Homo sapiens: one gene and its partners. The protein of the gene in region 1 purifies or fractionates together with the protein of each later gene. This does not show direct contact. Each region holds a gene or a part of one and is shown in the gene's direction. Other genes may lie near its edges. The genes, in order: DHCR24, LUZP1, ERAP1 and ACTA2.

Region 1 (7,000 bases):
TTGGGGCCCCCAAATTACTAAACTAAGGGAAAAGTCAAGCTGGGAACTGCTCAGGACAAACCTGCTTCCGCATTCTATTCAAAGTCATCCCTCTGCTCACTGAGATAGATGCATATTCTGATTAGCTCCTTTGGAAAGGCTTATCAGAAACTGAAAAGAATGCAGCCATTTGTCTCTTATCTACCTGTGACCGCAAGCCCTCTCCCTGCTTCAAGTTGTCCCCGCCTTCCTGGACAGAACCACTATACTTCTTACATATATTGATTGATGTGTTCTGTCTCCCTAAAATGTGTAAGATCAAGCTGTGCACCAGCCTCCTTGGGCACATGTTGTCAGGACGTACTGAGGCTGTATCAGAGGCGCACATCCTCAATCTTGGCAAAATAAACTTTCTGGATTAACTGAGACCTGTCTCTGATATTTGCGGTTCACAGTACCAATACAGTATGTGTGGGGAAAAAAAAACCAAAGTAAATACACTGTGTTATTAACATTAGTAATTCTGAAGAACTAGGAAGGGTGAATTTTTTTTTTGTTTGTTTGAGACGGAGTCTCACTCTGTTGCCTAGGCTGGAGTGCAGTGGCACGATCTCGGCTCACTGCAACCTCCACCTCCCAGGTTCAAGTGATTCTCCTGCCTCAGCCTCCCAAGCAGCTGGGACTACAGGTGCCCGCCACCACGCCTGGCTAATTTTTGTATTTTTAGTAGAAACAGGGTTTCACCAAGTTGGCCAGGCTGGTCTCAAACTCCTGAACTCAGATGATTCACCTGCCTTGGCCTCCCAAAGTGCTGGGATTACAGACATGAGTCACCACGACCAGCCAGGATGGGTGATTTTTGTTTTCTTCTTCACTTTTGCTGTATCTTCTAAGTGAATGAGTATTTCTCCTGTAATTTAGAAAAGGTTAAGTCAAATATTTAGTATAAAGATACTTGAAGGGCGAGGTTGAACACTAGCTAACCGAGAGCCAGAAATCACATTCCCTGTAATTAAAGGCAATGTTCTAGAAAGAGCCTGTAAAGGCTATATAGGAATCCCTGCAGTGAGTGTTTGGGAAGGTTTGAGATGACACCTTCTGTGTGCAGCAGCTCCCCTTGGGCCTGGCAGCCTCCTTTTGACCCAGGGTCTCTTTTCTTGTGTCAACAGATTGTCCGTGTGGAGCCCTTGGTGACCATGGGCCAGGTGACTGCCCTGCTGACCTCCATTGGCTGGACTCTCCCCGTGTTGCCTGAGCTTGATGACCTCACAGTGGGTGAGGACCCTATATTAACGGGCAAGAAGAGACACACGGTCCTAGGACCGGAGCTGATGGGCCTTGGCCACCCTCCATCTAGTCCTGGAATTGCCGCTATTCCATCTGTGACAGAAGTCATTCAGTCTCTTACTTGCCTGCTCCAATGACAGGGTGTTCACTGCCTGCTGTTCCATTTCTGAGCAGCTCAAGTTATCAGAAGGCACTTTTAATTTCTGGTTTGAATCTGCTTCCCTGTGACTTGTTCCCATTGCTCCAATTCCCCCCCATGGAACACACAGAATAAGTATAGTCTCTCTTCTCCTCCCATAGGATTCATAGCCCCCAAAGCCTCTTCTTCTTCAGGGAAAACACCTTCAGTTCTTTTAACTATTCCCATGGGACAGGGCTTCCTGTCACCCCTTCAACCCCCCTTTTCATTAAAGTCCCTCTCAAGATGAATGCACACAGATTTCTAGGTTGAGTCTGGCCAGAGGTGAGGTGTGAGTACACTTGACAAGGTCTGCTCGCCACTCCCTTCCTCTAAGGACACCCTCATGCTCCCATCTGAGCCCCTCCTTCCCTCTCCTGCTCTCTAGATTGACAGGTGGGAAATCTCCCCTAAGTCAACAGCCCCATTTCTGCTAGCCTGCCAAACCTCCCTCATGCTAGGAGGCCCCCCAGCTCCAACCCACCCCCAACCCTGTACCCACAGCTCTCCCTGCTGACACTGTGTGTGATGTCTCTGCAGGGGGCTTGATCATGGGCACAGGCATCGAGTCATCATCCCACAAGTACGGCCTGTTCCAACACATCTGCACTGCTTACGAGCTGGTCCTGGCTGATGGCAGCTTTGTGCGATGCACTCCGGTGAGTTCAGCAATGGGAGATGTCCATGCCAGCCTGCTCTGGGCATTAAGGATCCTGAGGTCAGGGAGGTGGCTCCTCTAGGTGTGCTTCATTCCCAGTACCTGTTCAGTCTGGGTCTATATCTGTAAACAAAAATTTGTGTAGCCCCTTATATGAGCTTAGGCAATGTTGTAAATCCATTATATATATTAAGGCATGCATGTTATCCTTCAACAACCTAATGAGGGAGGTTTATTATCCCTATTTTATAGATTATTATTAAATAATAGAAGGATTATTATCCCTATTTTATAGATAGGAAACTAAAGCTCAGAGAGATTATTTGCCATAGGTCACACAGCTGGGACTCACACCCCAGTAATCAGGCTCCCAGGTCCCTTAGCCGTTCATTATGCCATCCTGCCTCTCTGGAGAGGAAGTCAGGCCTTGGCATCAAAGCTGTGTGTCTTAACACTGTGAGGTACAGTCATGTGTCACAGAACAGTAGGGATATGTTATAAGAAACAAGTTGTAGGCAATTTTGTCATTGTGCAAACATCATAAGAGTGTAATTACATAAACCTAGATGAGATAGCCTACTTCACACGTAGGCTATTTGGATAGCCTACTACTCCTTGACTACAGACCTATACAGCATGGTACTGTGCTCAATACTGTAGGCAGCTGTAACACAATGGTATTTATGTATCTAAACATACCTATACTTGGAAAAGGTACAGTAAAAATACAGTATAAAAGATGAATGGTACACCTATGTAGCGTACTTACCATGCATGGAGCTTGCAGGACTGGAAGTTGCTCTGGGTGAGTCAGTGAGTGAGTGGTGAGTGAATGTGAAGTCCTGGGACATTACTGTACACCACTGTAGACTTTATAAACACTGTACACTTAGGCTACACTAAATTTATTTTTTGAAATTTTCTTTCTTCAATAATAAATACTGTTAGCTTACTATAACATTTTTACTTTATAAACTTTTTAAAAACTTTTGACTCTTGTAATAACACTTAGCTTAAAATGCAAACACATTGTACAGGTGTACAGAAATAGTTTCCTTCTTTATATCCTTATTCTATAAGCTTGTTTCTATTTAAACTTTTTTTTTAACTTGTTAAAGTTTTTTTGTTAAAAACTTAGACACAAGGCTGGGTGCAGTGGCTCACTCCTGTAATACCAGCACTTTGGGAGGCCAAGGCAGGTGGACTGCTTGAGCTTAGCAGTTTGAGACCAGCCTGGGCAACATGGCCTACAACATGGTCTACAAACAATACAAAAATTAGCTGGGCATGGTGATGTGTTCCTGTATTTCCAGCTACTGTGGAGGCTGCAGCAGGAGGATCACTTGAGCCTGGGAGGCAGAGATTGCAGTGAGCCGTGATTACGCCACTGCACTCTAGCCTGGGTGACAGAGCAAGACCCTGTCTCAAAGAAAAAAGGTCAAGACATAAACGCATGTTAGTTTAGGCCTACACAGAGTCAAGATTATCAATAACGCTTCCACTTCCGCATCTTGTCCCACTGGAAAGTCTTCAGGGGCAATAACACACATGGAGCTGTCATCTCTGACAACAATGCCTTCTTCTGGAATACCTCCTGAAGGACCTGCCTGATGCTGTTTACAGTTAACTTTTTTTTAATAAGCAGAAAGAGTACACTCTAAAATAACAATTAAAAGTGTAGTGTAGTGAATACATAAACCAATGACAGAGTCATTTATCATTATCAAGTATTATGTAGTGTACATAATTATATGTGCTATACTTTTATACAACTGGCAGTACAGTAGGTTTGCTTACACCAGTGTTACCATAAACACATGAGTATGACATTAGGATAGCTGTGATAGCAGTGATACCACTAGGCAACAGGACTTTTTCAGCTCCATTATAATCTTATGAGACCACCATTTTATCTGTGGCCCATTGTTGACTGCAACGTCTTTATGTAGCACGTAATCGTGTAAGTAAAAGTGATTAGAGAGGATGTTTTAGAAAAATAAGAAACACTTCTACCACCCAAACTGGGATTCAAACATTTAAAGCGTTTTACCTAAGGGGTGGGATAGGAGTGACACTTTAAATAACCTTGGATCTGTCCTGGCAGGTGTGAGGGACCCCTGGGATGGGAGGGACAGTTGGTCCTGTTGAAGTGGGTATTTCAGGGAGCCACCCGACTCCTTCACTTCACAGAAGAGGGCCCAAGGAAAGACTCCCAGCTTGGCAGCACTGGTCTTGGATGAGAGATACCCCTAGCAAGATTCACATCAATTCATCCTGCTTTCCTGAACGCTTGCGGGGCCCTGTCTTTTGACCTATTTATTATCGGCAGAGAAAGGAGACTGACATTTGTGAATTCTTTCCCTTCTCTGAGGCCCAGGTTCCTCACTGACAAATATGTGGTTGAGAGGAATAAGTAGGTCCTGTATGGGAAGCTCCTTGCATAGAGCTCAGCATGCAGCAAGTGTGTCATCTTCACTGCCATGGCCAGGAGAATGTGATTAGCTGTGGGCCCAAGGGGGAATTGGTGAGCGTAGTGCTGCTGTTCCTGAGGTTTCTGCCAGCCTGCTGCAGAGCCTCCTTGCTCCAGCTCTCCTGCCCTGCTGCATTCACTGTGCCCACCACCAAGAGCATTCAGGTTTTGTGGAGACTGCACAGGGCTGTCCTCTTAGTAAAGGCAAGACATGGCTGGACTTTTTCAAAAGAGCTTTCTTTACTAGAACTGAAGAATCCCAATCAGAATGGCCAAGGAAAAGTCAGTTGTCTGTGTCCAAGACAAATGTCAAAACAATAAAATGATGAGGTTGGACATTGATTTATGGAAGCAGATGAGGTGTTGTAGGAAAAACGCTGGCCGGGGAGTTAGGTGGTCTTGCCTGAGCCCTGGCATTGCTGCAGCTGACTTTTCTGGGAAGACTTTGGTGAGTCATGGCAGCTCTGAGAGACTCAGTTTCTTTACTTGTCATAAGGGGGTGCTAGCGCTCTCCCTGGGCTCTGTCGGGGGTGGATCCCACAAGCCGATGGACTGGGAAAGGCCTTGTAAATTTTAGTAATGGTTCAGAAGGGAGGCATTTTAATGTTCCCCAGCTACACTGCCTGACACCCACTAAAGGGTGTCAAGGCCTGGCCTTGGACTCCTGCCCTTGTGCAATGCCCCTGCCATTGTGGGTCGTTGGGCAGCAGTGCCAGTCCCAGCTTTTTCCTGAATAGCCTCTGGGTCAGGGGCTGTACCTAGATGGGAGAAGGAGGATGCTCTCTCAGTGAGGGTCCCTGAGACAGAGGGCAGTATTAGGTTCCATGTCATGTCGAAGCTGCAGGGAGGAAACTAAAGCCCAGCAAGCACAGTTTGTAAAGCTCATTGTTTGGGTTTATACAAGAGAGTGAGAGAATAGGGACTCTCCCAGGCTTTGCTCCCCCACTGACTGCATGCCACAATGTGGGGCCCAAGGTTTCAGCTCACAACACATCAATTCTGTCTCACAGTCCGAAAACTCAGACCTGTTCTATGCCGTACCCTGGTCCTGTGGGACGCTGGGTTTCCTGGTGGCCGCTGAGATCCGCATCATCCCTGCCAAGAAGTACGTCAAGCTGCGTTTCGAGCCAGTGCGGGGCCTGGAGGCTATCTGTGCCAAGTTCACCCACGAGTCCCAGCGGCAGGAGAACCACTTCGTGGAAGGGCTGCTCTACTCCCTGGATGAGGCTGTCATTATGACAGGGGTCATGACAGATGAGGCAGAGCCCAGCAAGGTAAGCCAGGGTGTCAGCTGCTGCTGACCAAGACTGGGGAGGCATGAGTGTGCTAGGACTGAGCCGGTTCCCGTATCCTGACCCTGGCAGCCACCTCTTCAAGGCTGCTGCCTGGGTCAACCCACCTGGGGTACAGGCAACAGGATCTATCATCAGAAATGTATTAGACAGTGATGGAAGCTTTCATCTACTCTGCCCCTACCACCTGCCTGGGATGTGCTTGTCTCTTAGTGGATGTAATCTTTGGTCCTTATAGCAAACCCATTTTATAGATGAGGAAACTGAGTCTTCAAGAGGTAATGTAGGCTGGGCACAGTGGCTCACACCTGTAATCCCAACACTTAAAAGAGGTAATGTAAACTTCCACAAGATTCGAGTAATCGATTTGATGCCTTGGAATCTAGATTGACATTCCTTCCACATATACCATGCAATTTTTATTAGCAGTTTTTTCTCCATTTAGAAAGGATTTGTGCTTATTGTAAGAGACTTGGAAAGGATTTGTGCTTATTGTAAGAGACTTGGAAGGTACAAACAAGTAAAAAGGAAAGAAAAGACTCCACCTGTAAATATGTCCCAAAGCCAGTGTTGCTAATGTGTTTGGTACACAGTTGGCCCCTTGTATCTGTGGGTTCCACAACAGTGGATTCAACCAACTGCAGATTGAAAGCGTTCAGGGGCCAAAAAACGGATGGTTTCATCTGAAATGAACATGGACAGACTTTTTTTCTTGTCATTATTCCTTAACTGTTACATAGCATTTACATTGTATTAAGTATTGTGAGAAATCTAGAGATGATTTAAAGTATACAGGAGGATGTGCATAGGGTTATATGCAAATACTAAATCATTTTATGTAAGGGACTTGAGCATTCATGGATTTTGGGGGATCCTGGAACAAATCCCCCATGGATACTGAGAGACAACTGTATTTATTTCCTCTTTCTCTGTATGGATTTTTTTGAAAGTTTTTAAATTATAAAAGTAATGTAACAATGCTGAAATATATAAAGAAAAAGTTAAAGTGCATCTCTTTACGCCAGGGTGTAACCACTTACGTATAACAGTTTTGTGTGCATTCTTCGAGACCTATTTATTTTTATTTATTTATTTTCTTATTGTTTTTTTTTTTGAGACAGGGTCTCTGTAGCCCA
Region 2 (7,173 bases), about 32 Mb from region 1:
TTTAATCTGTGGGAATCCTGTGTGACCTCTGTAGAGAGTGGCTCCCTCCAGAGTACTTTTGTTTGCTCAGCTAGGTTTCCCAGGGATATTACTAGGCTGATGGCCATTTTATGTTAGTTTCTCAGGACAGATAGGTTCTAGACCACTCAGATGGTATAAATTTGAACTCTGAATTCAAGTGAGAGCAGGTCTAAGATTATAAATTCTCTAGGGATAATCCTCCTTTAACCCCTAATAGAGCCCGGGTCCTCTTATCTCCCTATATCAGGGAGGTGACTTTTTTCACTAGTTATCCTGGAGCTGTAGTTCTTCAATAATCCTTGCTTTAGATTGGGGACTGGAGTCTCATTTTCAACTTACCACCTCTATTGAGCCCAAACTCTTGCCTCTTATACCTGCATGATTGTTAGAACCCAAACTCCTTGGTTCTGGAGATCGGCAAGACCCTAAGAAGGACAGCTCAGTGGTAGTTTAAACTTACTATTATTTTTCATTTAGTTTTCTTTTCCTCTGGTTTTAGCTGGAATGTCACTTACTTTCTATGTGATCAACTATACATTTTAAGTGATTGTTACATTTTATTCAGTATTTTTAGCTGTTTTATAGTATTAGAGGTTTTCCAGGTTATCTGGTTTGCTGTAGTGGTGGAAATGGAAGTCTGTTGTTTGCCTTTTAATTTCGTAGGACTTATTGTTCATGAAAGCTGTTTAAAATACATTTATCAATCCATTCTCCTGTTTTAAAAATGAGAAAATTACATAAAAAAACTAAACCTTCCCCTTTCTCTATTTCCTTGGGGTATTATTATATGTTTGGTATATATCCCCAGTGAAATGGCTTTCAAAGAAACAAACCAGTCTTCATACCAACCTTAACATCTGGGGCATTTCTTTTACAGTGCAAAAGGATATGTTTTGTAGAAGCTGCCTGTTGGCTGGGTCGGGCCAACTCACACCTGAATTCCACTTACAAATATACTTTTGGGAGAAGAGATGTTGAAAATGGGTGTAGAGAGATTGTTTTAGTATATTGTGAAGCTCACCATTTATAGCAAGGCAGAGGGTTAATTTGTATCACTTTTAAGTCACAATAGCTCATAAGAGATAATCTTTAAAAAAAAAAATCTTAGGATTGTTTATTGCTTTGTTACCAAGATCTTCCACATATTATCTCAGAACAACACTGGGGAGAAATACGGTAGACATCATTATGCCCATTTTACCACTAAGTAAAACTGAGACTTAGTTTCCATTGTTAATGACTCTCCTGAGATTATGCAGGTTGCAGATGGTAATGATGTTATTATACCCTGCCATGAAAATTGAGGCTTCTTATATGTCTTTTTGCCATGCTGCCACTGGTGACATTCTTTATTAGGGCGAAATGAGGTATCAACTCAATATCGGCCATAAAGAACCAGTGTTTTCTTGCAGGTTTATTCAAGTCATTCATTCAACAGGTTTGAGCCCCTGCTATGATCCAGGCACCAGGAACAGATAGGAGCACTTTTCTATAACTGGGAGCTAACGTGCAGGTTTTACATTTGCTGACTGACATGCTTTCTACTTTCCTTTTGTAGATTGATGATGGTCTCCAGCTGTCAAAGAAGATTGTGGTTGCCAAGAGAAAGGTAACCATTTCTCATCCCCTTGAGTGGAATTGGATGCCTCTAGGAGCCCACATTGGCTGGCAGTAGACATGGCCGAATTTACAAGCTACAAGGAGACGGCCTCCAGCCGCCACTTGCGGTTTAAGCTACAGAGTCTAAGCCGCCGCCTTGATGAGTTGGAGGAAGCCACAAAAAACCTCCAGAAAGCAGAGGATGAACTCCTGGATCTCCAGGACAAGGTGATTCAGGCAGAAGGTAGCAACTCCAGCATGTTGGCGGAGATTGAAGTGCTGCGCCAGCGGGTGCTGAGAATTGAAGGCAAAGACGAGGAAATTAAGAGAGCAGAGGATCTGTGTCGTCTGATGAAGGAGAAACTTGAAGAGGAAGAAAACCTCACCCGGGAGCTGAAATCTGAGATTGAGCGGCTTCAGAAACGAATGGCTGAATTAGAGAAGCTAGAAGAGGCCTTCAGCAGGAGTAAGAATGACTGTACCCAGCTGTGTCTGAGCCTGAATGAGGAGAGAAATCTGACCAAGAAAATCTCCTCTGAGCTGGAAATGCTCAGAGTCAAAGTGAAAGAACTAGAATCTTCTGAGGACCGCCTGGATAAAACTGAGCAGAGTTTAGCGTCAGAGTTAGAAAAGCTGAAATCATTAACTCTGAGCTTTGTAAGTGAGAGAAAATACTTGAATGAAAAGGAGAAAGAAAATGAGAAATTGATAAAAGAACTCACTCAAAAACTAGAGCAGAACAAAAAAATGAACCGAGATTATACAAGGAATGCTTCTAATCTGGAAAGAAATGACCTACGGATTGAGGATGGCATCTCTTCCACACTGCCGTCCAAAGAATCAAGAAGGAAGGGTGGTCTGGACTACCTAAAGCAGGTAGAGAATGAAACAAGAAACAAATCAGAAAATGAAAAGAACCGCAATCAGGAAGACAACAAAGTCAAAGACCTTAACCAAGAGATTGAGAAACTTAAGACACAAATCAAACACTTTGAATCGTTGGAAGAAGAGCTTAAGAAAATGAAGTCCAAAAATAACGACCTTCAGGATAATTACCTAAGTGAACAAAATAAAAACAAATTATTAGCCAGCCAACTGGAGGAGATAAAGCTACAAATCAAGAAACAGAAAGAGTTAGAAAATGGAGAGGTAGAAGGGGAAGATGCTTTCCTGTCCAGCAAAGGCAGACATGAGAGGACTAAGTTTAGAGGCCACGGAAGTGAAGCTTCTGTGTCCAAGCACACAGCGCGGGAACTGTCTCCTCAGCATAAGCGGGAACGACTCCGGAACAGGGAGTTTGCTCTCAACAATGAAAACTATTCTCTGAGCAACAGGCAGGTTTCTTCTCCCAGTTTCACCAACAGGAGGGCAGCAAAAGCTTCTCACATGGGGGTGAGTACAGACAGTGGGACTCAGGAGACAAAGAAAACTGAAGACCGGTTTGTACCCGGCTCCTCCCAGAGCGAAGGGAAGAAGTCTAGGGAGCAGCCCTCAGTGCTGAGTCGCTACCCCCCGGCTGCTCAGGAGCACAGTAAAGCGTGGAAGGGGACTTCCAAGCCAGGCACCGAGAGCGGACTGAAGGGAAAAGTGGAGAAGACAACACGAACGTTTAGTGACACCACCCATGGATCTGTTCCCAGTGACCCATTGGGTAGAGCTGACAAGGCTTCTGACACCTCCTCTGAGACTGTCTTTGGCAAGAGGGGACACGTGCTTGGCAACGGAAGTCAAGTAACTCAGGCTGCAAACTCTGGCTGTTCTAAGGCCATTGGAGCCCTGGCCTCATCTCGAAGATCCTCCTCAGAAGGGCTCTCTAAAGGCAAAAAGGCTGCCAATGGCCTTGAGGCTGATAACAGTTGCCCGAATTCCAAGGCTCCTGTTCTATCGAAGTATCCTTATAGCTGTAGAAGCCAAGAGAACATCCTTCAGGGATTTTCAACCTCACATAAAGAAGGGGTTAATCAACCTGCAGCAGTTGTGATGGAAGACAGCAGTCCGCATGAAGCCTTGAGGTGTCGAGTCATCAAATCCAGTGGCAGAGAGAAGCCAGACTCAGATGATGACTTGGACATAGCATCTCTTGTTACTGCCAAGTTGGTAAATACAACCATCACTCCAGAGCCAGAGCCCAAACCACAGCCTAACTCTAGAGAAAAGGCTAAAACCCGAGGGGCACCTAGAACCTCCCTATTTGAGAATGATAAAGATGCTGGAATGGAGAATGAATCTGTGAAATCTGTCAGAGCCTCCACCAATACCATGGAGCTCCCAGATACCAATGGTGCTGGGGTAAAAAGCCAAAGGCCCTTTAGCCCCAGAGAGGCGTTGCGGTCTAGAGCCATCATCAAACCTGTTATTGTTGATAAGGATGTGAAAAAAATCATGGGAGGATCTGGAACAGAGACTACGTTGGAGAAACAGAAACCCGTCTCCAAACCAGGGCCAAACAAAGTGACAAGTAGCATTACTATATATCCATCTGACAGCAGCAGCCCCAGAGCTGCTCCGGGTGAGGCCCTGAGGGAGAGGCACACATCCACTAGCAATATCCAGGTGGGGCTGGCAGAGCTCACATCAGTTAGCAACCATGTCAGCTCCCCTTTTGAGCTCTCCATTCACAAACATGACATCACCCTGCAGCTTGCAGAAGCGGAGAGAATGGCAGATGGGCCCCTGAAGGACAGGCCAGAAACAGTGGTCTCTCGGAGCAGCATTATAATCAAGCCATCGGATCCTGTGGAGAGGAATAGCCATGCACCTCCAGCGGAGACAATCAGGTGGAAAAGCCATAGTGCCCCTTCAGAAGTGGGCTTCTCAGATGCCAGACATGTTACTGTGCGGAATGCCTGGAAGAGTAGGCGAGACTTGAAATCTTTAGAAGACCCCCCAACTCGAATAGGTAAAAACGTGGAATCTACCAATAGCAATGCCTACACCCAGAGGTCTTCCACAGACTTCTCAGAACTCGAACAGCCCAGGTCCTGCCTTTTTGAGCAGGGCACTCGAAGGGTAGGACCAAGTTCAGGGGATGCCCCTGAGCCCTCCTCCAGAAGGACCCAAAGTAGCCTCACTGTGTCAGAGGTGCTTACCCGTCGGAATCGGGTAGGAGACACCATCACTGTCGCAGCCTGGAACCACTCAGCAAGCATGGTGAGTTCCAGCCTCTCTCCCCTCTCTCTTTTCTCCCTCCCTTTTCCTTCTTTGCCTTTTCCTTTTTCCCCTCTGCTCTGGCCTGTGTGACCCAGGATCTTGAGAACTGAGTAGAACTGGGTTCCTTAGAGAACTGTTGAAAAATCAGGGGGGTTTGACCTTTCTCCTAAAGAAGGTTTTTGGCAGCATCACTTTCCAAAATCCCTTTTCCAATTTGTTGTCTTCATTTTGCTCTCGTATATGAAGGTGACATAAAAAGGAAATCTGTCTTCTCTTCCCTTGGTTTGCCAGAGCAGCTAAAGGAGCTCCCCGTAGGCCCTCAGAACAGCATGAAAAGCACAAGAAGCAGCTGCAGCTGATGGGGAGCTCTGGGCAACAGGAGGAGGCCCGGTGCCCTTTCTGTAGGGCACAGTGAGGGGGAGCCAGGTCAGCAAGTTCTCGGCCGCCTCAGTTAGCAGATCTTCACAGGCTGCTGGCCTCTCAGGGATGAGGAGAGCCGGGGCTTACACTGGGCCTATTTTAGATAAGCGTATACCCAATTCCAAGTGACACTTTCTTTTGCCCCCCAGACAGCTGTCTGTCTCATATTATCAGTCTGAGGGCAGGGCTGGTTCAGTATAGCTCATTACAGCTTTGATAAATCCAGAACCACCTGCCTTATGTGAGTGTGAGGCTCAGGGTGTCAGAACAGCATCTGGAGAAGCCCCTGGGAGTGTCTTTTTGATGAGAAACCTGTGATGATGAAAAACTTCTTGGACCTGGACACAGTGCTCCCTTCTTTAAAAAAGCAGATGACTCTGTTAACTTGAAAAGCCCTGTGACTCTTTACAGGGTACTTAACACTGGACAAAAGTACTTCACTACCCACTATCTTATTCAGTCCCTTGAATATCTGCCTGGGGGCAGATATTATCCCCATTTTTCAGATGTAGAAGCTAAGGGTCAGAAACACAAAATATCTTACCTAAGGTCACCCAGCAGAATTACTGGAAGAGCGAAGACTTGAATCCAAGATTCCTGTCTCTAAATCCAATGCTCTTTCTACTCTAACCTTTCTTACTCATGCCTATGTTATTCTTTGATCTGCATTTGCTTGGGAGAACCAAGGAGAATATTAAAAAGGTAGAATTCTGGCCAGGCGTGGTGGCTCACACCTGTAATCCCAGCACTTTGGGAGGCCAAGGCAGGCGGATCACAAGGTCAGGAGTTCAAGACCAGCCTGGACAATATAGTGAAACCCCGTCTCTACTAAAAATACAAAATTAGCTGGGTGTGGTGGCACATGCCTGTAATCGCAGCTACTCAGGAGGCTGAGGCAGGAGAATCACTTGAACCCAGGAGGCGGAGGTTGCAGTGAGCCGAGATCGCACCATTGTACTCCAGCCTGGGCAACAAGAGTGAAATGACGTCTCAAAAAAAGAAAAAAAAAAAAAGCCAGGTGTGGTGGTGCGTGCTTGTAATCCCAGCTACTTGGGAGGCTGAGGCAGGAGAATCGCTTGAACCCAGGAGACGGAGGTTGCAGTGAGCTGAGACTGCGCCACTGCACTCCAGCCCGGGAGACAGTGCGAGACTTCGTCTCAAAAAAAAAGGTAGAATTCTAGGCGTAGGGAGAAAGACAGCTATTTGGGCCCCTGAAGCTTTGGACATTTAAGAGGAGAGATAAAGGATGAGAGACGGGAATGTGAGCTTTTTGGTAGTTTGTATGTGGGAAGGAGGAAGAGAGCTGTCCGGACCTCTCTTCAGCTCCCCATCAAGGATGTGGACCTCATCCCCAGAATCATGCGGCCTGCATGCATGTGCAGAACTCGGAGACTGCTGGCCCCTCCTCAGGGGTGCTAGTCCCATGCCCCCATTCCAGGCTCTATCCTCTGTAAGGCTCCTGTTGAGTTGTGAGCCTCCTCCTAGCCTACCCTGATTGTTCCCAGCAGCTTGGAGTTCCCAGTCTGCCGATTTCCAAGGAATTTACATATTGGCCCATACTCAGGCAAAAGCATATCTTTGCAGTTAACTTATGGCCTGTCTGGGCTATATCTGCCTCTGCTGGGTTGGAAAGGACCCACTATGGTAGCAGGTGAGGGTGTCTCGGTCCTCACTTTACTGACCTCCACAGCTCACTTTTGTTATTTATTGGCACAGGAGGAAGAAGGGGAAGACTGTACACTCAGTGTCTACAGGCAACTGCACAACTCCCTGGATCCGTCTGAACTGCCTGGGAAGCAGGGGCTGCCAGAGTCTGGGCGAGTACGGGCCGAGGAACGATTACGGCCAACCAGGCCCTGTGCTGAGGAGAACTGAGCCCGCTGGGTGTCTGTTGTCTGCCCTCTGCTCCTGCTTCTCAGCTCTTCCACCGTCCTGCCCCACGAAGGATCCAAGGCCAGTTAACCAGGCAAGACACAAGCCTTG
Region 3 (8,087 bases), on another chromosome or scaffold:
TAATTTTCCAATAAATTGCAAGCATTCCTAGAACCACAGACTTCACTTAAGCCAAACTCTGTCAATTTCACACTGCCATGTATGGATGAGCATAAATGAGTTTCTCTTTTCAGGCCCCAATTGTATATACTTTACAGAACTTCATTGAGAAAGTTATTCGTTTCTTTCCTTTTCTCCTTTGTATCATAGCTCATTTAATTTCAATATAATAAAATCCATTAACCTTCTAGAAACTAAGGTTTTGAAAAGTTATTTTTCCCATGTTTAGTTATTGCAACAGATATTCATTATAGCTAAGGCAAGACAGTTAGTAGCATAACACCATGGTCCCTCAAAAAATAACAATAAACAAATCTACATATTTTTCATCCCAATATTTTTATCATTCCTTTAGGCATATGCAAAGATCATGTTCACTCCTGGCTGGATAATTCATTCTTTCTTTGTGAAATAGCTGTGGCAGAGGGAGCCATAAATAAAATAAAGCCTCCTAAACAAAGGTTTGCTTTAATCTGTTCATATTGACAATATCTAGTAAATTCTGATATTTCAAACAACTCACCATAACGGGTATAGATCTGGGTTTTTAAGAAATTGACATGATTTATCCAGACACATTTGTGGGTTTTCTTTGAAATAGTAGAGCTTTACTGACTATGACACTTTGCATTTTAAAGAAATTTCATTGCTTTCTCTTGTGTGTCATAGATAATTTTTATATAACTGAATTGTGATTCTCCAGTAGATAAATGGACAAGAAACATAAACATATAATTCTCAAAAGAGAAAACACAAAGCAAAAACGGCTAATTAACATATGTTCAGTGCATATATTCAGTCTCATTAGTGATGAAAGAAATACAAATTTAAGAAATATGTCATGGTGACTTACCTCCTTGTTGACACGAGCAAAGGTAAAAGCAACAGGAATACAGAAGACTGGCTAGAGAGCAGTTAGATGGGCCTGTCACCTACTGAGGAAGGTTGGAGACAGGTGGATTCCCTGGGTTCTGTAAGGCTGCAAGAACTGGAAACATGCTCAGGTTACCTTAGACAGCAGTATCTTGTGAAATAAATGCCTGAGGGAGGGAAAATGGGAAACATGTGATCAGTCCTCGTGGCACCTAGAATGTTCTTCAGGATCCACAATTCTAGAAGTTCAAGGGCAGCTGTGGTCACTCAACTTGCTTGAGTTGTTCCTACAGAATCTGGCATACATTGCTCGCTCCCATAGTGCTCTGTTGTATGGTAATACAGGACTCTCTCTGAAGACTGACTCCAACTGGCTAAATCAAAAAGGAAAGCATTGGTCCTCTTGAATGGAAGGTCTAAGGACAGGATTTGCTCAGGACAGCTGGAGCTGAGGGCTTTAGTGGAGGTATTCTCTGTCTCTGTCAGCCCTGCTGTCCTTTGAACTGGCTTCACTTTAAAGCAGGCTTTTTCCATGTGGTGGCCCCTGGTAGGTCACTTCACATCTCTAATCCTGTTTCCTCATTCTAGAAAAATGGAGCTACTAGCCACCTGCATAAGTACAATGTGAGGATCCCATGAGATAGACTATATGTAAATGCTTTCAAGCTGCCACATTTCAGAGGACTTTATTATTTGATATGAGCTCAGTGGCCTGTTTTGGAACAGTCTTTAACATGGCATCTGTACCGTCTTCCCTGTTTCTGATTATTAATAAGATGGTATTGCTTTTGTTAAGCAAGCCTGCTCTGCAACTTGGCACAGAGGGGGAAAAAAGTCATCCTCTTTATCAAGAATATCAAGAATGAGGGGCATTATTATTTTTTTTTAAATTGGCATTTAAAAAAATTAAGTTCTAAGGCCCTGGGAGCCTATGGAAGAGTCTCAAGGACCACAATGTGTGTGGAAGGGCCGGATAGCAGTGGGCAAGGCTGACTGGGTGGAGCTGCCCTGTTTAATAAGAGCAGGCCTGCTTTTGTCTGTTTTCTACACCATGATTCTGGATGAGATTTTACATCAAAAAGGAGAGTGGTAATATGATTAAAATAGGAGCAGCTTTGGCAGCAAAACAGAAGAAATGAGCCAAACGCTGACATTAATTGACTAAAAGCTAATGAAAGCAGAACTGAATCAATCAATTACAGCAAAATTGAACATCACTTGACAATATCTAGAATTCAATATTTTTTAAGTAGATCAGTAATAGCTCAAAGTGGTATGTATTTCATTGGCCTAGGCCTGAAATTCTCCTCATTCCTCTGGCTCACCTCTGGGACTAAGGACACTGAGAAGCCTCTGCAATGGATGGGCTCAACCGGCCAACCAGCCCTCCTACACTATATGGTATACAATATTAGTGTTTACCAACCCCTCCTTGTTCTGGCCAATGCAATGTGAGTAGAATTAGTGTGTGTTTTCTCTTTGACTCTGAGCAAGTTGCCGACCTGTCTCATTTTTCTCATCTATAAAGCATAATATCTACATTACAGGGTTGCTGAAGAGATCAAATTATAAACACACACATGCACACATAGCTAGCATTTAACAGTATCTAACAGTTGGTAGGGAATCAATAAACCTAGGTACCCTTTCTCTCTGTTCCCTTCCTTCTAACCATTTCTAAGCTCGGTAATGTGCTGTTTTGATCTCACAGGCTCTAGAACTAGGACTCCTTAAAGTCCTTACTCCAAGGTCTGTGTCCTCTACATCCCTGCTAGGGCTTTGAAACTAGAAGTGAATGCTGCCAAATCCTCTGACTTATCGCTCTTTGTAGTGCACTTCAACTCTAAAGACGAAATCACGGCCAGGGCGACAGGCTAAAGTCTGAGTCAGGGTGAGCTTTTGGGGAAACGGCGTGGAGCGGGTGGTGGTGTCAGCTCTCTCCTCGCCTACACTTCAGCTCCTTTCTGCCCACATCCATTCAGGGCATTGCCCTGTTTGTCTCCTCAGCTGTCTTCTGTATTAACCTCCAGCCTGTTGGGTGCATTCAGTTCTGCCAGCTGGACTTTCAATATGTATTTAAAAAGACACATAAACAAAAAACAAAAACAAAAACAAAAAAACTTTACTAGAAGCCAAAGGAAAACCATCATATTCAAAAATATAAATATAAAAGCAAAGAAATGCATACATTTACTGGACAAAGAGGTCTCATCTTGAGTAAACTGGGAGCACTCCGAGATGTCTGGAGGTCTTGGAGGCTACACGCTATCCATTGATACCTCCTGTCAAATTCTGAACATGCAGAAATTACCAGATCTCAAAGTCCTCATTTCTTGTTGAATTTTAGTGAAAAAAACTTCCCTGGATCCCACCGTAGTTGAGTCTTGGAACAGGGTGTTAATCTTTATATTATAAAATGTCCTTGACTAGAGATAATAGGCAGTATGAAACATTATATTTTTAAAAAGGAAACATAATATTGAAAAAAAAAGAGAAATACTGTTGCAGTGACTTGGAATCCCCAGTTCTCAAAGGGAAGAAGGCCAATAAAGAAGTGGGAGAAGAAAGTCTGAGAACCGCATGAAAAGGGTCCTGTTCCCACTAGGACCATGGTCCACTCACCAAATTATCAGAGACGTTTGAACCAGAGCAACTCCATCTTGAATAGGAGCTGGGTAAAATAAGGCTGAGACCTACTGGGCTACACTCCCAGGAGGTTAGACATTCTAAGTCACAGAATGAGATAGAAGGTAGGCACAAGACACAGGTCATAAAGACCTTGCTGATAAAACAGGTTGCAGTAAGGAAGCTGGCCAAAACCCACCAAAACCAGGATGGCAATGAGAGTGTCCTCTGGTCGTCACTGCTACGGTCTCACCAGCTCCATGACAGTTTACAAATGCCACTGCAACGTCGGGAAGCTACCCTATATGGTCTAAAAAGGGGAGGCATGAATAATTTCCCCCGCTTAGCATATAATCAAGAAATAACCCTAAAAATGGACAACCAACAGCCCTTGGGGGTGCTCTGCCTATGAGTAGCCATTCTTTTATTCCTTTAGTTTCTTAATTACTTGCTTTCACTTTACTCCATGGACTCCCCTCAAATTCTTTCTTGCGCAAAATCCAAGAACCCTCTCTTGGGGTCTGGATCGGGACCCATTTTCGGTAATAAACTTGTAGCATTTGGTGTTTTAATGTTTGTGTTTTCTTGACTTGTTACCTCATTTAGCCTCAACTGTTTAAAGATGGTCTTTTTGGCCATTTTATTCAGCTTTAATTGTTCTAAGGGGAGTGAAGAAATGGTCATTTACTTTGAAAAATCAGAGGGAACGTGTTGATGCGGGAAGCAGCTAATCCTTGGGGTACAGTGGCCCTTGGTAGTGCAGGAAAGTCCTGGGGGCCACCTCTAACCCACCTTCCTCCTCTACAGCATCTCCCACTGTAGTCATTCTCTACCGAAGCCCCAGAAGGTGCGGCACTTTGCCACGACAGAGTACTGGGTTCATGTTTCTTTCCGAGGCGGGCCAAGAGCTCTCAGCCCACTGGCAGTGGCGAGATGACGGACACCCAGCGAGTCCAATGGGCGTCGAACGCGTCTAGGCTTGGTGGACTTGTCAGCGCCTGCCTGGCTTCGGTCCCCAACTTGAGCACCGGCCCTTTCCTGCATGCCCCTAACCCTCGCAACGCTAAACAGTGAAAAAAAAAAAAAGACAAAAACAAAAAGCATCTCAACACACACACACACACACACACACACACACACACACACACACACACACACACACACACACACACACACACACACGGATCCGCGTTCAGAAAGGCGTGCACTTCCTACGCCTGATCCCCCGCATCGCAACCTCGCAGCTTCCCCGGCGTGCAGCGCTCATTTACCAATTCCCTTCCTGGGAGTTGCGGCTTCCCTCGCTCGGCCCCACTCCCGTTTACCCTTTCCCCAGCTCCCGCCTTAGCCAGGGGCTTCCCCGCCTGCCGCTAGGGCTCGGGCCGAAGCGCCGCTCAGCGCCAGCCTGCCGCTCCCCGGGCTCCACTTTCACTTTCGGTCCTGGGGGAGCTAGGCCGGCGGCAGTGGTGGTGGCGGCGGCGCAAGGGTGAGGGCGGCCCCAGAACCCCAGGTACAGCGCGCTCGAGCCGCGGGTAGGGGACTGCGGGCCGGGAGGAGAGCGCGGCACCCGCCCCTTCCCTGCGCCCGTCAAGTGGGGGGCTGAGGGCCTGGGGCACGGGAGGAGGGAGACGGGGCACGGGAGGAGGGAGACGGGGCGCGGGAGGAAGGCGACGGGGCGCGGGAGGAAGGCGACGGGGCGCGAGACAGGGCGCGGGAAGGGCGGGGGGAGTCGCTGGCTAGGCCCGAGTCCGCGGGGTGCCCGGCGGGTTGGCGGCGGGCCCACCCCTGCCGGTCCCTGTCCCTGTCCCTCCGGGCGCGTGGCCGGTGCGCCTGCTTCACGGGTCTCCCCGCTGTTCGGCCGGCGGGAGCCTCCCTCAGCGCTCCGCCTGGCGCCTGGATGCCTGCCAGTCCTGCAGGCCACCGACGCCCGCGCGAGGCCAAAAGGCGGGGTGGGGCGGGCAGCTGGCTCGGGCTGAGGAGGGCACCTGCCCATAGCTGCTAGAGAAACCCAGAGGCTTTGGGTTAAAGACTCTGGTGGGGTGGGATGCGCGGGCCGTGTGTGTTCTTAAGGTCACTTCCCTCCCTGCTTCTCCTGTTCTTCTGGTCAGCAATTCTCTCTCTCCCCTTCGCTCTGGCTCTGGCTGGGTTTTATTCAGATAAAGCACCTCTGTTGACGCAAATTAAAAGTTTCCTATCTGGGTGCCTCACTGGCCAGGTGGTCCTACAAAGTTAATTCCATGAGGGGAAGGGGGAGAGCACACACTTCCTCACGCTTTTGGATTTCTTTGTGTAGGCTAGGTTCAGAAAGAAATTATCTGTTTCCTATTAAACACCCAGAGGATTCGCTCTGAACTCAGGACGTGGTCAACAATTAACAAAACAACAAAACAAAACAAAACAAAACAAAAAACTTGAAAATTGGGCACAGTTGTCTCTTGCCTGAGGATTTTTAATTAGTATAAGTAGCACATTTTCAGGTGCGGCCTGAATAGAAACATTCTAGTACTTTTTTTTTTTTCAAATTAATCCAGCATTTTTATTATTTACCAACAGTGCTTGTTAATTTCATTGTTCAGGAAATTCTGGAAGAACCTCAATTACTTCTTGATGATCTATTTCATATACTATAGTGCCCCAATAAAAGGAAGGGAGGCAGAGGTTGCAGTGAGCCAAGATCGCACCACTGCACTCCAGCCTGGGAGACAGAGCGAGACTCCGTCTCAAAAAAAAAAAAAAAAAAAAAAAAGAGGGATCTTGGTGAAGCTGAAAAAGCAGGGAGTTTATACTCACACAGATGTGGATTGCATTCCAACAAGTTGTGTGAACTTAGCAAAGTTACATGAATGGTTCTTTGCTTCAGTTACCCCACCTTGAATGAGAATAATAGGCTATTAGAGAGAGTGAGCATGTGTAAAGTGCCTGGCACTTTGGAGGAGCTTAGTAAATATTAGTTCTTTTTCCTCCTTGGCTTCTATTCCTTTAAGTGTTAGTGGAGTGTAACTTCAAAGAGAATTGTACTTCTCTTGGGAAGAGCTGCTTATATTGAGTAGACTACTGTTTTTGAGAGCTTTCTTTTTTTTTAACTGCCTCCCTTTCAGAAAATTGTTAGTAAAACCAGACCCTAGGAGACCAGCCAGAACCATGAAATGCCATGTTTCAAACTGGAACACTTACTATTGGAAGCAAAGCCAAACAAGAGCTAATTTTTCAGGGGAAGAGCCAAACACACGAACATGATCACAGAATCTTGGATGTAGCCTACAGTTTGGGATTAATAAGAGAATTTATTAGTGAAGCCCTTTATTCACTACATGGAGTTTTTACCAAGCCCCACTCATGCACTGCATCCTCGTTGAGACATAACTGTTTCTCTTTGGACCCCTCATGGACCCAACCCTGCAAAGCCTCTGATCCAAGGTCCCGGTACCAACCCCTTCCGCAGCACATCAGCCTTTCTGTCAGCTCATAACGAGTTGGAATTTCTAGATCTTCTCTGGGGCTGTTGGAGAGGTCTCGGGGACTTTCAGAGTCCTTACATGCTTGAACCTGCCACCTTCACAGAGTCCTCTGGATCCCGTCTTGGGGCAGGGGCGATGCTCATTAAGCTGTTGCTGCCAGTAATTCCATATGGAAAGCAAAACACAAGTTCCATTTACTCTCTAGTTCCCCAACTTCAAGGGCAAAAAAATGTTCTCCCTGTTCACACTTCCTGTCTCACCTGGGTGGTGCCTTTTGAACTGGGATTATGAGATTTCCAAGACTCTCTCTAATGTGTAGGTATCCTTTCTGTTTAGCCTCCAGATTGCTCCAGAGGTGAGGAGAAGGGAATTCCCTTGAGCTGTGCATTTGGGAAGGGAGCAAGGAAGTCAGGGGTTAGGGAAGGCACTTCAGCCATTGCCTTGAATTAGTATCCTATCACATAGAGTTGAAGGGGGAAAGCCAGGATTTGGCAAGGATGAGCTTTTCAACCTTGGCTTCTCAGTAAAATCTCTGGACAGTTTTTTTTTTTTTTAAAAAAAAAAACCAAAAACCAGAAATTAAACAATCCGTAAAACCATACCCCGATCTTATCACCATAGGTTCCAGTTTAATTGTTGTCAATAAGGACCCAGGCATCGAAAATTTTAAAAGCTTCCCAGGTTACATTAATATGCAGCCAGAGTTAGGAAACTTGACATCTCAGAGAGGGAGAATTCCATGTACTGTGAACACTTTGAGGGATCCACATTGTAAGCTTGCTACTTTTCCCAACTGGAACACGAGGAGTTTGGGCCAATCACTTGCATTCACCTGGTATGGGCCCCTCTTGGCAAACACCCATTAGAAAGGTGCGTTTGTATAAAAGAAATAAAAACTTATGTTTGATGCTTGGGGCATGGTTTGCCAACTTCCTTAAAATTCACATTGCCTTTTTTTTTTTTTTTTAAAGACAGAGTCTTGCTCTGTTGCCAGGCTGGAGTGCAGTGGTGCAATCTCAGCTCACTGCAACTCTGCCTCCCAGGTTCAAGCGATTCTCCTGCCTCAGCCTCCCAAGTAATTAGGACTACAGG
Region 4 (7,173 bases), on another chromosome or scaffold:
CACCACTTCATAATAACCTCAGTCAACATCTTGGTAAATATGATTAATCTTTTTGCAATGCATAAAAAATACATTTTTAATGAGATTTACAATGTTACTTTTTCTAACCTATTACTCTTACATAAGAACTACCTTTTGCTTATCCTCTTACTCTACCTTTTTAATGGCAGTAAAGTATTCTACCATATGATATATAATCCATCAGGCTCACCCTCACTTGTTGGACTGTTAGCTTAACAGTGACTTTTATTAACGGTGGATAATTGCAGCCCCTAAAATTTAAAGCACCTTCTCAGAAAATTTTATTTCAAAGCTTCTCTGAGGGTAAAGTAAAAGTCCTCATGATTCAAAAAGATTTTTCCATTAAACACTTGACCATTTTAACATTTCTAAATTTTTACATGCTGCCTGTCCCTCAAAAATCTAGCTTTTTGAAAAAATTTCAAAAAGGTATAGCATATCTAGAAAAATGTGCATTTGGGTTGATACAGACAGGAAAATCTAGATGCTTCTTTAACATAAGGTAGGCAACTTGTCTCTGCAAAGATCTGGTCTCAGACTCTGGATTTCCCATCTGTGCTCTGCAGTTTGTTTATTCATTCACTGGCTCTATCCACCTTTAAAGTGCTCACGAGAACACATGATATGCCGGTCACTACACTAAGGTTGTATCAACATAGAAGTCAGAGTTTCAGAAGTCAGAGTTTCAGCTTACTGAAAGCTTATAGTGTAACTAAAGTACTTCCAGATACATGCTATATTAGATAAGGGTCAGAGGATAGCACTAGGACACAGAGGAGGGCCCCCAAACCCAGCCTTGGAGGTGGGAGTTGTCAGGTAAGTGCCACAAATGCCCAATTACAGCTGAGGCTGCTTCCTCCCTGTTTTCTATAGAATCCTGTGAAGCAGCTCCAGCTATGTGTGAAGAAGAGGACAGCACTGCCTTGGTGTGTGACAATGGCTCTGGGCTCTGTAAGGCCGGCTTTGCTGGGGACGATGCTCCCAGGGCTGTTTTCCCATCCATTGTGGGACGTCCCAGACATCAGGTGAGGAAAATTATGATTGGAACATAACAGGACACAGATTAGGTTCCTCTGTGTTCATGTTTATCCCCAGATTGTCTATCTCTTTCTGCCCAGAAGTTATGTAACCTTGTTACAAATAGACCTCTAATGATTAAGGTCCAGGAGTAAATGCCAATTTCACATATAATGTAGACAGATTATCTGATGGGCATCTATCAGATACAAAGTCTGCCCCTTTTTCATGTCCTTTTTGTCTAAATATAGTCATTATCATCATCATCATCATCATCAAATCATTTCATCACCATCAGAAATGCTTATACATTATCCTGATGTATACCAAAGCTACTGTTTGGAAAGAAACTAAAATAAAAGTCCAGGTCACTTAACCATACAGGGCTGATGTTAGATGAAAGCAAGCATCGATACCAAATGCAATTTTACATAATATTACCTGTCAACAAAATATATTTGGACAGCCGCATGGTAATTTTACACATTATGTGTAAACAAAGTATTGGTGGCATCACATGGTAAAAACTCAGTAATTTCACCTCAGAAATTCTTCTTCACATCAGAAATGTAGTTTGTGCATTGAGGCTATCTGATTGATGTTTATGCCTCTCTGCTTGGGATATATTCATGAGAATAAATAATAGAAACCTCTCCCAATGAATGCAGTCTGTCTGAATTCATTGATCTTTATGCAGTGGAGATATTCTGCACAAGCCGCTATTTTATGGGTCCATAGTAGCCATGGCTGTTTTGTAGTTCTAAAATAGTCACTGCAGTGCAATTTAAAATCTAGTAACAATAATTTTTTAAGAACTTCACCTTAATGATTTTTTTTAAATGCAGCTGACTAATTTAGGCAAATGTCTTAACAGTTGATTGGTATGAACTTATCCATTAGAAATCAAGCCTCAAGTGGTTATTTGTAGATGCAATGCTTTTGCTTATAATAGTTAGAAAATAATGCTCATATTCTTTTGGGTAGGTGATGACTTTAAAAGTACAGTTTAAAGGATTTATAAGACACAAAATGCCATTTAACAAATATGTAAAATTGTATACATTCTTTCAACAAATAATTATTGAGTGCCACATATGTGCCATGCAATTTGCTATAGTGATGGACAAGACAGACATGATCTCTGCCCTAAAAAAGCTCATCAAGGAACATAGGAGATAAAAATACAAAGTAAAGTTGACTTTCCCCCAACATCTCCTGTTATTTGGAGGCAATTCAGGTCTTTTTCCAATCAACTGCAGAATTTTGCTTAAGAGCATAGTGGCAATGAGACTCAATATGTTTATTGTTGCTGATAATCAGAAGAGGAACTTCCCATCTCAATGACTTAACCTTTTGTGGCTTGGCTGTAATTGATTCACAAGTTTTGGGAGATGCTGACTCATAATGTGTTGAACCTTTTTAGGGGGTGATGGTGGGAATGGGACAAAAAGACAGCTACGTGGGTGACGAAGCACAGAGCAAAAGAGGAATCCTGACCCTGAAGTACCCGATAGAACATGGCATCATCACCAACTGGGACGACATGGAAAAGGTATGGGAGGTTTGCTGCAGCTTGGGCCCTCAGGATGCATAATCCCTGTGTTCTCTGATACAGAACACCACACTACTGCTGGGGAAATAACTGGCTCACATTGCTCAACTGTACTTTTACTTGTTAATGTTCATTCTGGGTTATTACCCATTGAAAAAAAAATCCTTGTAGCCATAAAAAATGATGAGTTCATGTCCTTTGTAGGGACATGGATGAAGCTGGAAACCATCATCCTCAGCAAACTGTCGCAAGGACAAAAAACCAAACACCGCATGTTCTCACTCATAGGTGGGAATTGAACAACGAGAACACATGGACACAGGAAGGGGAACATCACACACCGGGGACTGTTGTGGGGTGGGGGGAGGGGGAGGAATAGCATTAGGAGATATACCTAATGTAAATGACGAGTTAATGGGTGCAGCACACCAACATGGCACATGTATACATATGTAACAAACCTGCACGTTGTGCACATGTACCCTAAAACTTAAAGTATAATAATAATAAAATTTAAAAAAAAAAGAAAAAAAAATCCTAAAATGTTTCTTTAAAAAAAAATCCCTTGCCAGGCATGGTTGCTCACACGTGTAATCCCAACACTTTGGGAGGCCAAGGTGGGAGGATCGCTTGGCCCAGGAGTTTGAGACCAGGCTGGGTAACATAGTAAGATCCTGTCTCTACAAAAAATAAATGAAATTAGCCAGGCATGGTGGCACACACCTCAGTCCCAGCTACTTGAAAGATTGAGGTGGGAGGATCACTTGAGCCTGGGATATGGAGGCTGCAGTGGGCCAAGATCCTACTCCAGCCTAGGTGACAGAGTGAGATCCTATCTCAAAAAAAAGAAGAAAAAAATCCTGCAGGGCACAGTGACTCACACCTGTAATCTCAGCACTGGATCACTTGAGGCCAGGAGTTTGAGACCAGCCTGAGCAACATAGCAAAACCCTGTTTCTACTGAAAAAAAAAAAAAAAAAAAGGTTTAATTAACAGTGTGTGGTGGCATGCAACTGTAGTCCCAGCTACTCAGGAGGCTGAGGTGGTAGCATCATTCGAGCCCAGGAGTTCGAAGCTGCAGTGAGCTGATCATACCATCAGCTGTTGCACTCCAGCCTGGGCAACAGAGCAAGACTCTGTCTCTAAAGAAAAGGAAAAAAATGTCCTTGCCTATTAGGTTTTATTAACTAATTAAAGGATGATAGTTCTGTAGATGAGAAGAGTAGCCCTTTGCCACTGCAGGGAATTAATCATCTGTTGCTCACGTCAACTCTGTTGCCCTCCTAGGACAAGCAGTGCATGAGCAGCAGCTCAGAGAATGAAAACCCTCCTTTCATTTTCATCAGGGGCTGCATGGTTATCCCTCTCAGTGCAATATAGCTAAAGGGGCTTGAAATGCTGGGAGTAGTCTTAAACAGCCCATTCTTGAAAGGTTTTCATTAACTCACTCTAAACATCTAAATTAAAAATGTTTTTGTTTTCACTATAGTAAACAGGAGTGTAACATTGCAGGTTTGGTACATTTCTGAATGCCTCTCCACACACTGAAGCACAAGAGCCACTGAAAAAAGCTATATGATAAATATTTTAAAAATTATTTATCTGTGTTGCATTACATGAGGCCTTATCTCCCAGACACTTAATAAAAGAGCTAATGAGAAGAAGAGCTAAATTCTAAGATTTTGATGTTTGGTCATTAAACATTACAGACACCAGTGATCAGAGAAAAAAACAGAAGAAATAATGAGAAAGTGACATAAAAAATTTTAAATGCAGCAAGATATATCAGAATCACGATATCTGGCCTTTTATTTATCTATCGGCTCACTACTACTACTACGCACACAATTTATCACTTAAAAGAAAAATACATAATGTTGTTAGAATTTATCAGCAGTAATGCTCCAAGCTCTATCTTTCTACAAAAATTTCATATCAGTAGGTTTGCTTGAGGATTCTAGATTTGGTAAGATTGCAGTTTGCACAGAGAAAAAGATATCAATATCAATAGGAAAATATTCTTTTAGAATTTCTCCATGGAGCTGACAACATCTTAGAATGTATCGTCCTAGACAGAGACTATTGGAAGAAAAAACTTTCCTTATTTCTAAAATTTAAATTCAAAGTATCTTCTGGTGGGGACGAAGAGAGAGAGAGGAGAAAGGTTGCTTGCTGTGACTGGCAGGATTTTTTGAGCAGTCTGCTGCTTTCACTCCACTAAAGAAACAAAACTTTCAGAAGTTTCATTTCCCTTCTATAAACCACAAATCCAAAACAAAAGAAAGTGGAATAAGATAGTCTTTAAAGCTAATCTTGGTTTTGCTAATTTGTAAGCTTTCACCAGCAGTTCTTGTTTTGCTCTGTTTTGATTTTGAGTGAATCTCATATTCCTGGCTCTGGTGGAGAATTTTCGTGCTTTTAAAGATTAATTAATTTAGTCCTTTTTGCAATGGTTTGTTCTTTTCGGCATCTAGGAATTAAAGAAAGTGCTCAACCATAAATAAATGTAGTTATGTCCAAAGTACCTTCACATAGACACACTATACACAGGCGTGGGCCTTTTGGAAACACCTGAAGGCCAAATGTCTGACTGTGAGTGGAAGATCCAGAGTGTGCTGATAGAGGAAGCTTTTCTCATCCCTCGAGAGCAAAGAGGGTGATGGAGGCAAGAGTCAGAGAGCCCTGTTCTCTTCTTCATGTACACTGCAAAGGGCAACTTCTCTAGAAGCATTAAAAGTGTCAATTAGGTTTTCAAGTAAGCGTCATTTATTCATATATACATTCATTTGTCTTTTTATTTACAAAATTAAATCATTTTCCCATGAACATTAAAATGGGAAGAGAGAACAAAGAAAATAGAGTTGAATAATAATAACATTGATTCTGGACCAGACACTGGGCTGGACAATAACTCGAGGGTTACCTTATTTATTTACACAAAGACCCGATGAGGTACACACTAATTATTTTCATCTCCCTATTACCAATCATGAGACTGAAGCTGAGAAGGGTTAAAAACTTGCCTAAGCTCACACAACTAAGAAGTGTCCGAGCTGGGCTTTGAACCCAAGGTTTGATCAAGGGTTGTGCCCTTAACTGCCATACCATCCTGCCTCACAGATCTGGGTTAGGGATTCTGCTCAGTCACTTAGTAGATGTGAATCCTTTGGGAAGGTACTTACACACTTTGAGCTTCAGTCTCTGCATCTATAAAACCATGGACACATGCATGAGTACTTGTAGCATTTCCTTTGGTCTTGGTTTCAAGTAGCTTCTGGTCCCTTTTTGGGAAATGCAGGACCTCATGACAGCACATCATTGTGTTTCTCCTCTGTCCCCCAACTCACTAGATCTGGCACCACTCTTTCTACAATGAGCTTCGTGTTGCCCCTGAAGAGCATCCCACCCTGCTCACGGAGGCACCCCTGAACCCCAAGGCCAACCGGGAGAAAATGACTCAAGTAAGTATGCTACCCCAGCACACAACACTGTGGGGTCTGGGGAAACTTCTGTTAGAAGGAGGCTATGCAGCACAGCAGAGAGAAGGCCGGAGCTAGGAGTCCACCAACAGACTAACAGCCTTCAGTGAACTCAGGGATCCCAAAGGACAGGAACAGCTTGAAAGTACTTGCATCCTTCCTGCAGGGACCAGCCCTTTGCCTCCAAAAGCAATAGGAAATTTAAAAGATTTCACTGAGAAGGGGCCACGTTTAAGTTATAATGTCTAAGGAGAAGTCACTTCAAAATGCAGCATCACATACAATAGGAATTTGGGTTCCAGAGTCAGACATATCTAGGTTTGAAAACTGGATCTGCCACTTATCAGTTATGTGACCTTAAAGAACTCCGTTAATTTCTCAGAGCCTCAGTTTCCTTGTCTATAAGTTGGGAGTAATATTAATACTATCATTTTTCCAAGGATTGATGTGAACATTAATGAGGTGAAATGACAGATGTGTATCATGGTTCCTAATAAACATCCAAAATATAGTACTTACTATTGTCATTATTATTACTTGTTTGAAGCTAAAGACCTCACAATAGAATCCCATCCAGCCCACCAGACAGAGCTCTGAGTTTTCTAGTTTGGAAGAGCTATTAAATAACAACGTCTAGTGTCAATTCTATACTTGTTATGGTCAAGTACTGGGCTCAGCATTTTACATTCATTGTCTCTTTAAGTTCTAGCAATGTGAAGCAGGAACTATGATTATATTGACTACATAAATGAAGAAATTGAGGCTCAGATACATTAAGTAATTCTCCCAGGGTCACACAGCTAGAACTGGCAAAGCCTGGGATTGATCCACGATCTTCCAGCATTGAAGAATCATAAATGTAAATAACTGCAAGGCCTTTTCCTCAGAAGAGCTCCTGGTGCTTGCACCAACCCACTAGCACTTGTTCTCTACAGGGGAACATCTGTGGGCCTGGGAATCACTGCACGTCGCAAGAGATGTTGCTTCTGATGAATTATTGTTCCTGTCAGTGGTGTGAAGGCAAAAAAAAAAAAATGGTTGGAAATTATGGCTTGCTAGCAAATGATGTCAGACATTCTGGTTAATAGAGTAGGAAGGGTCTTA

What was found.
Region 2: the proteins of DHCR24 (region 1) and LUZP1 purify together in Homo sapiens (affinity purification with mass spectrometry; 3 studies listed by BioGRID and IntAct, with this or other methods). This does not show direct contact.
Region 3: the proteins of DHCR24 (region 1) and ERAP1 purify together in Homo sapiens (affinity purification with mass spectrometry; 4 studies listed by BioGRID and IntAct, with this or other methods). This does not show direct contact.
Region 4: the proteins of DHCR24 (region 1) and ACTA2 purify together in Homo sapiens (affinity purification with mass spectrometry; 3 studies listed by BioGRID and IntAct, with this or other methods). This does not show direct contact.

The regions. Positions count from the first base shown.
Region 1 is NC_000001.11:54,870,196-54,877,195, reverse strand, and holds part of DHCR24 (delta(24)-sterol reductase precursor), read left to right. Parts: intron 1-1,148; coding exon 1,149-1,254; intron 1,255-1,984; coding exon 1,985-2,103; intron 2,104-5,582; coding exon 5,583-5,846; intron 5,847-7,000. UniProt on the Homo sapiens protein: Catalyzes the reduction of the delta-24 double bond of sterol intermediates during cholesterol biosynthesis.
Region 2 is NC_000001.11:23,088,787-23,095,959, reverse strand, and holds part of LUZP1 (leucine zipper protein 1), read left to right. Parts: intron 1-1,579; 5' UTR 1,580-1,698; coding exon 1,699-4,770; intron 4,771-6,906; coding exon 6,907-7,065; 3' UTR 7,066-7,173.
Region 3 is NC_000005.10:96,804,820-96,812,906, reverse strand, and holds the start of ERAP1 (endoplasmic reticulum aminopeptidase 1 isoform b precursor), read left to right. Parts: upstream 1-4,961; 5' UTR 4,962-5,047; exon of another isoform or gene 5,048-5,449; intron 5,450-8,087. UniProt on the Homo sapiens protein: Aminopeptidase that plays a central role in peptide trimming, a step required for the generation of most HLA class I-binding peptides.
Region 4 is NC_000010.11:88,942,675-88,949,847, reverse strand, and holds part of ACTA2 (actin, aortic smooth muscle), read left to right. Parts: intron 1-894; 5' UTR 895-917; coding exon 918-1,046; intron 1,047-2,461; coding exon 2,462-2,590; intron 2,591-5,940; coding exon 5,941-6,051; intron 6,052-7,173. UniProt on the Homo sapiens protein: Actins are highly conserved proteins that are involved in various types of cell motility and are ubiquitously expressed in all eukaryotic cells.